Homo sapiens: one gene and its partner. The protein of the gene in region 1 purifies or fractionates together with the protein of each later gene. This does not show direct contact. Each region holds a gene or a part of one and is shown on either strand. Other genes may lie near its edges. The genes, in order: MYO1G and RALA.

What was found.
Region 2: the proteins of MYO1G (region 1) and RALA fractionate together in Homo sapiens (co-fractionation; one large-scale study listed by BioGRID). This does not show direct contact.

Annotation. Positions count from the first base shown.
Region 1 is NC_000007.14:44,965,449-44,969,195, reverse strand, and holds part of MYO1G (unconventional myosin-Ig), read left to right. Parts: intron 1-1,237; coding exon 1,238-1,312; intron 1,313-1,458; coding exon 1,459-1,591; intron 1,592-2,357; coding exon 2,358-2,524; intron 2,525-2,915; coding exon 2,916-3,123; intron 3,124-3,335; coding exon 3,336-3,559; intron 3,560-3,747. UniProt on the Homo sapiens protein: Unconventional myosin required during immune response for detection of rare antigen-presenting cells by regulating T-cell migration. Unconventional myosins are actin-based motor molecules with ATPase activity and serve in intracellular movements.
Region 2 is NC_000007.14:39,699,840-39,703,659, forward strand, and holds part of RALA (ras-related protein Ral-A precursor), read left to right. Parts: intron 1-3,820. UniProt on the Homo sapiens protein: Multifunctional GTPase involved in a variety of cellular processes including gene expression, cell migration, cell proliferation, oncogenic transformation and membrane trafficking.

The DNA of each region.
Region 1 (3,747 bases):
CTTCTGGGAGCCTTTAAAAAATACCCACGTCTCATGTCTGGGCCCAACCCTATACCAGCATCTGTGGGGTGGGGGGCTTCAGGCTGGTGATGTGGGGGTGGGGAGGGAGTGGAAGGTGCAGGGGGGCCAAGATTCTGCATTTCTAACAAGCTCCCAGGTGAGGCCTCGCTACCATACTTGGACCACGCTCCCAGTGCCAAAGCCCAGGTGTCTTCAGGGGTTGTCATGATGGCTATTAACTTATGTGTTGCTTGCCGCATCCCAAAACGATTTAAGGTGACTCACATCAAGGTATAAGTGTTTCATGAGAACTTCTCAAGGAGAGGGAATAGAATAGATGATGACAACAAAGCAGCCCAATATCATCTACCTTTATCTGTTCGCAAAATCTACACCCATGAGGTCGCTCATGCCTGTAACCCCAGCACTTTGGGAGGCCAAAGTGGGTGGATCACCTGAGGCCAAGAGTTCGAGACCAGCCTGGCCAACATGGCAAAACCTCATCTGTACTAAAAATATAAAAATTATCCGGGCACGATGACGCGTGCCTGTAATGCCAGTTGCTCGGGAGGCTGAGGCACAAGAACTGCTTGAACCTGGGAGGTAGAGGTTGTGGCGAACTGAGATCGCACCACTGCACTCCAGCCTGGGCAAGAGAGTGAGACTATTTCTCAAAAAAAAAAAAAAAAAATCCATTCCCTGAGCCTTCATAGGTGCTGCAGTTGGAGCCAAGATTTGGCACTGACCTTTCTAGCAGTCCAAGAACTAGACAGTGATTCTGAGGCTCTCAGTGCCCACAGATCAAAATAGGCCCAGGACTCAGGAGTTCCTAGTCATAGTTGTAGTCGCTGATGTTTATCAAAATTCAGTAGGCACTGTTCTGAGCAACTGATGTACACTGAAGCACAGAGAGGTTGAGTGGCTTAGGCAAAGTCACACAGCATGCATGTGGTAGAAGCAGGACTCGGTGCTAGGACATTTGGCTTCAGAGCTGGGGGCTTAACCACTCGATTCATCTTCCAGGAGAGAAATGTCTCCTGAGGGAGGGAGTCTTACATGACGAAAGAGAAAGCAGGTGTGAGGGGGAAGGAGGAGAGGAGCCAAGGCAGAGGGAGGAAGAGAGACTGACCTATGGGAACAGAGGCAGATGGGAAGAGAGTGGGGGCTGCTGGGGTCATTAGCACTCTGGCCTGGCAGCCCCCGCCCCTGCTCCCTCACCAGCCCTGGCTTCTGGTAGGTACTCCGTGGAAGGCTTCATCGACAAGAACAGAGATTTCCTCTTCCAGGACTTCAAGCGGCTGCTGTACAACAGGTGAGCACGGCTTGCTGGGCACCATAGGGAGGGCCAGGGCCCTGGGGCCCCAGAGACTCTGGGGTCAGGCATTGACTAGCGTCAGGACGTGGGTGGGTGGGGCTGCTCTCCCAGAGGATGGCTGGGAATTCGGCCTGTGTCTGCAGCACGGACCCCACTCTACGGGCCATGTGGCCGGACGGGCAGCAGGACATCACAGAGGTGACCAAGCGCCCCCTGACGGCTGGCACACTCTTCAAGAACTCCATGGTGGCCCTGGTGGAGAACCTTGCCTCCAAGGTATGTTCCACCCCTCTCCCACTCTGGCTGTTCCGGATCCTTCTCTCTGTGCCCTCGGTGCCAAGTAGGGTCCCAACCACCTCTGTACATCATAGTGGTGGGGAGAGGGTTCTTGTCCTGTCTGTATGAGCCACATCTGCTCCAGCAGTGGACCCCACCCACTGCACAGGTGAGATGTGGGGCCTCAGGGGCTGGGCTGAGGCTTGATCAATCATGGGGAACCCAGGCTTCTCCTCGCCCCATTGTCTCTTGAACAGGGAGGGGTTTGGGGAGACCCTGCTGAGAGGCTGGCTTGGCCCAGCCCAGCTCTTGGCAAAAACCCAGGATTCTTCTGGCAGGTGGGGCCAGAGAGACAGGAAACTGGCACAAGCTTTCTTGGGGAGCTTTGGGTCAAAAGTCAGAAGAGGAACAGGTGAAGGGTCAGGGAGAGGACATGTTAGGGTGAGCTTAACTACAGAACATCCAGAGATGTCAGCCCCTTTTGGAAGGAGAGAAGGAAGGCAGATGGGGCGAGGCCTGCTCCTGCCCCTGCCACGCCCACCTCCCCACCCCCCGACCAGGGGCTGGAACCTGGCTCTGAACCTGGCCTTGCTGGCCTCTGCCCAGCACTTAGGGCTTCCAGGGCCCTTGTTCTGCTGATTTCCCTTCTTTGTTCCCAACTCTTCTCCTGGCCTGGGACCTTGAGGGGTTAGGAAGCCCCTGGTGTGGGGCAGGGTGCACAGTGCTGCTGGCGCAGACCCTCTCCAAGTCCCCTCTGTCCCTGCAGGAGCCCTTCTACGTCCGCTGCATCAAGCCCAATGAGGACAAGGTAGCTGGGAAGCTGGATGAGAACCACTGTCGCCACCAGGTCGCATACCTGGGGCTGCTGGAGAATGTGAGGGTCCGCAGGGCTGGCTTCGCTTCCCGCCAGCCCTACTCTCGATTCCTGCTCAGGTACTGGCACCTGACACCCATCACTCCATGGGCCATAGTCCCTGTGTGGAGTCCAAGGGGTAGGAGCAGAGGGTCCCCAAACAGCACGTCGCAAACATCGATACAAGCAGGAACCAGCACGCTGCTGGCCTCAAGACACCAAAATATCTGGGAAGACATGTGTGTGAGCACATGCATGTGGGGACATACAGGTGGGAACATGGGTATGAGGGCTGTGTGAGGACATGTATGTGAGGACATGTGTATGGGAAGACATATGTGCACAGGTGTCATAAGTGCTCCAGGAACACACTCTGTATCCCTGCCATCTCCCCAGGTGTGGGGTGGGCAGGGTGGGCTCCATCATCTCTCCCCCAGGCCTGGGCCACACTGCCCTGTCCTGTGGTGACAGGTACAAGATGACCTGTGAATACACATGGCCCAACCACCTGCTGGGCTCCGACAAGGCAGCCGTGAGCGCTCTCCTGGAGCAGCACGGGCTGCAGGGGGACGTGGCCTTTGGCCACAGCAAGCTGTTCATCCGCTCACCCCGGACACTGGTCACACTGGAGCAGAGCCGAGCCCGCCTCATCCCCATCATTGTGCTGCTATTGCAGAAGGTGAGGTGGGCGGGGCAGGAAGACATCCACTATGGAGGTGGGGAAAGCTTGTGTCCCAGGGGCCACAAACACACTTGTAAGTTTCACAGGAGTCTCTGCTTGATGGAGACAGGCCAGGGAGTGCTCAATAAATGCTCAGGGCCAGGTTTGGGTCTAAGGGTTAGGGCCTGATTGAATTTGACTGCGTATCCCATCCCACCTGGCCCACCCAGGCATGGCGGGGCACCTTGGCGAGGTGGCGCTGCCGGAGGCTGAGGGCTATCTACACCATCATGCGCTGGTTCCGGAGACACAAGGTGCGGGCTCACCTGGCTGAGCTGCAGCGGCGATTCCAGGCTGCAAGGCAGCCGCCACTCTACGGGCGTGACCTTGTGTGGCCGCTGCCCCCTGCTGTGCTGCAGCCCTTCCAGGACACCTGCCACGCACTCTTCTGCAGGTACTACTCTCAGCCCACCACACATTCCATTCAGCTGGCATCCACTGAATACCTTAACCCATCATCCCGGGCCTGCAGTGCCTGGATGGGAGATACACCAGCCCCCTTGATAGGTGGGAAGGTGGATGCTATGCCACATTAGCTGACTGCTCATGTCCCACAGTTGGTGCAGAGCCCTGACCATCTTG
Region 2 (3,820 bases), 5.3 Mb from region 1:
ATTCATGGACACTTGGCCCTCAAACAACACAGATTTGAGCTGTGCAGATTTTTTTTTCACAGATGCAGTCTGCCTCCATGTCGGTGGGCTCTGCATCCACAACCAAATGCAGACAGAGAATACAGCAGGATGTGAAACCTGCATATGCGGAGGGCTGGCTTTTTGCATCCATGTGTTCTGCAGGGCCAGCTGCGGGACTTGAGTAGGTAGAGATTTTGGGATCCACGGGCATTCTGGAACCAATCCCCCATAGATACTGAGGTACGACTATGTTACTTTTTCAAAAAATAAAAAATAAAATAAAGGTATAAGGCCGTTTTAGTTACTATGGCTGTATAACAAAGTACACCCCAGAACCTTTATGGGTAAAACAGTCATTTATTCTGCTTATACATTCTGTGGCCAAGAATTTGAACAGGGCACAGTGGAAATGGCTTGGCTCTGCTCTACAGTGTCTGCTGCCTCAGCTGAAAGCTTCAAGTCTAGGCACTGGAAATACCTAAACTTAGGTTCTGAAGGCTTGTTCGCACATGTCTGGCTCAGCCAGATGATGCTGGCCATTATCCAAGGATGCCTCAGTTCCTCTCCAGGTGGGCTCCTCCATGTGGCCTTTTCCATGTGTGCTAGTTTAGGCTTCCTCACAGCACAGTGGGCAGAGTCTCCAAGGGCAAGTGTCACAAGAGAAAAAGAACCAGGCAGAAACCATACGGCCTTTTATGACATAGTCTCTGAAGTTATGCAGCATTATTTCTACCTCATTCTACAGGTTGGAGATAGTCACAAAGTCTCACCTAGGTTGAGAAGGAAGGGGAATAGACTTCAGCTCTTGATGAAAAGTGGCAGGATTCTGGAAAAGCACATAGGAAACATTGCTGTGGCCAGTTTCAGTTAATACAGTCTGCAGTCGGTGGTCACCTGTCCAAAACAGAATTACATTAAACGAGGCTGCTTGTAAAGTGAGGTGCAAATCCATACTGAAGACTATAATTTCATGTACTGCTACATCCTGCGGAGTGATTACCAGATAAAGTACCTCAGTGGCTACATAAAAGTCATTTGCAGCAACTATTCAATTTCCAGAATTAGGTTATACTTGTGTTTGTGGTTGTTTTCCTGAGGAAATAATCTAATAATCAGAAAAGCTAATATTTATTTGTGTTTATAAGAGCCAGGCACTGTGGTAAGTACCAACCATTTAATCCTTAATTGTGTGAGGCGTAGATACTCTTCTGATGCTCACTTTTTAGACAAGGAAGCTGCGGTGTGGGGAGATTACGTAACTGGCTCAAGGTCACGGGGTTCGTGGTGGCATCTGCAGCTTCTGGGTCTGGCCAACTCTGGCGCTCACATGCTCACATTCTTTCTTCAATATTTTACTCAAAACAATGGTTGGGGCCAGGTGCCACCACACCTATAATCCCTGCACTCTGGTAGGCCGAGGCAGGCAGATTACTTGAGCCCAGGAGTTTGAGACCAGCCCGGGCAACATGGCAAAAGCCTATCTCTACAAAAAATACAAAAACTAGCCAGGTGTGGTGGCGAATGTCTGTAGTCACAGTTACTTGGGAGGCTGAGACAGGAGGATTGCTTGAGCCTGGGAGGTGGAGGCTGCAGTGAGCCGAGATCATAACCACTACCCTCCAGCCTGGGTAATGGGAGTGAGACCCTATCTCAAAAACAAAACAAAACAATGGTTGGAATAGCTAGTGTATCTCCCATTTCTTATGTCATCCACTACTAGAAGCCTGATCACAAATTTTCAGGAATAGCAAGTGTTATTTCCTTTTATTAAATTGTGAAGTGTCATGCTTTGTCACAGAACAAATGCTAGCTCTCCATAAGATCATTGGCTCATGCGTTATCCTCATCTGGAGTCCAAATAGACCATTAGGTGGAAGTTTCAAAGATGCAGATTTTAAATCTAGTCATGAAAAAGTGTCATAGCCACCAGAGCTGGGGCATGGCATGTCTCAGGAAGCCATGCTTGTCACAGAGGAATCACTCCGAGGCTAAAGGAACATCTGGGCAATCCTACTTGTGTACTCATTGGATTCATTCAGTGACCTTGTTATTATCCTTCTAGCTAAATGCTCTGGGTCTTAATTCACGACTCCAAGGTTGCTCTTGATTTTAAGGAACATTTTGGCAGAATAGAGAGAAGTTGAGCAAATATTAACAGATGTCCAAAGGGGCAGTGTGATTTATTATGTCAAGAGAATCAGTTTTATGTCGAGGGAAGAATTTTGGTAGAAATACACTGTATTTTTTGGAAAATATCATATTTGGGTTTTTTCATTGTATAAGTAATACATGGATACATGCTTATATAAAGAAAAATTCATAATATAGAAACATAAGGAGGAAAAATGAGTCATTTTTCTCCCATAGTTCACTCCTTTCCCCTCCCTTTCAGTAACCAGTGCTAACACGGGTGTGTCTTTCCAGACGTTAAAAGCAGTCATACATATCTCTAAGGGAAAGTTTGCATTTGCTTGTTTTTTCTTCCTGTATTAATAGGATTTGTGTATATATATACACACACGTAATATATTTTGTATCTGTATATATAGAGCATATTTCTGTGGTGCGCTTTTTAAATTTTATGACAAATCCTACAGCTCTTCCATGTCACTGCATATAGATGTATCCACATTCTTTTTAAAACCACAAAGTATTCCATGGTTAGACTTTTCCATAATTCAGCCATTTTCCTATTAATGACATTTATTTGTTACAGCAGTGTTCACAATAGCCAAGATACAGAACCAACCCAAGTGCCAACAACAGATGAATGGATAAAGAAAATGTGATAGATATACACTATAGAGTACTATTCAATCATTGAAAAGGATGAAATCCTGTCATTCATGGCAATATGGATAGAACTGGAGACAATTAAGTGAAATAAGCCAGGAACAGGCAGTTAAACACTGCATGTTCTCATTCATATGTAAAAGCTTAGAAAAAGTTGATCTCATAGAAGTAAAAAATAGAACAGAGAATACTAGAGGCTGGAATGGGAGGGATAGGTAGAGATTTGTTAAATTATACAGAATTACAGCTAGATATGAGGAATGAGCTCTGGTGTACTATACTATTGTAGATGACTATACTTAACAATAATGTATAGTTTCAAATACCTGAAAGGAGGATATTGAATGTTCCCAACACAAATAATAAATGATTGAGATGATGGATGTGCTAATTACCCTGGTCTTAGTCACTGTACGTTATATGTTTCAAAACATCACTGTGTACTCTGTGAATATGTGTCAATTAAACAGACAAAATTCAATTGAAAATAAAATCAGAAATTAAACCTTCATCTAGTTTCCTTTTCATAGTGATTTATCTGCATTAGAAAGCAATACTGGGAGTATTCCAATAATTACATTTAGTCAGAATCGAGACCTCCTGTCCTAGCTAGTTAGCCAGAGACTTGAAACAGAGGTCTTCTGAAATTCCTAGTCTCTGGGGAAATAGAATCACAACCACTAGGGGCAAAAACCCATGGCTTTTATGTCATCATTGTGTTCCGTTCTGTTGCATACTTTGTGTGTGGGTGTGTGTTTTATACTTTTTTCCCTTTAACCGTTTATGCTCCTTCATGTTGGTCCTATGTCCGTTTGACTCAGCCCATTCATCTTTGATAGTTTCGTTGCTTTCTGACTTAAATTTTATGCTTCTTGCTGCAGATCAGGAATCAGCCATTCATCTAAGGAACTCAGGTTCTGTTTAGGAGGAATGATATTTAGCAGCCACAGCATAGTTACATAATTTGCTTGTTGCTATTGTGTTGTCATTTTTCAGTGAATAGTTC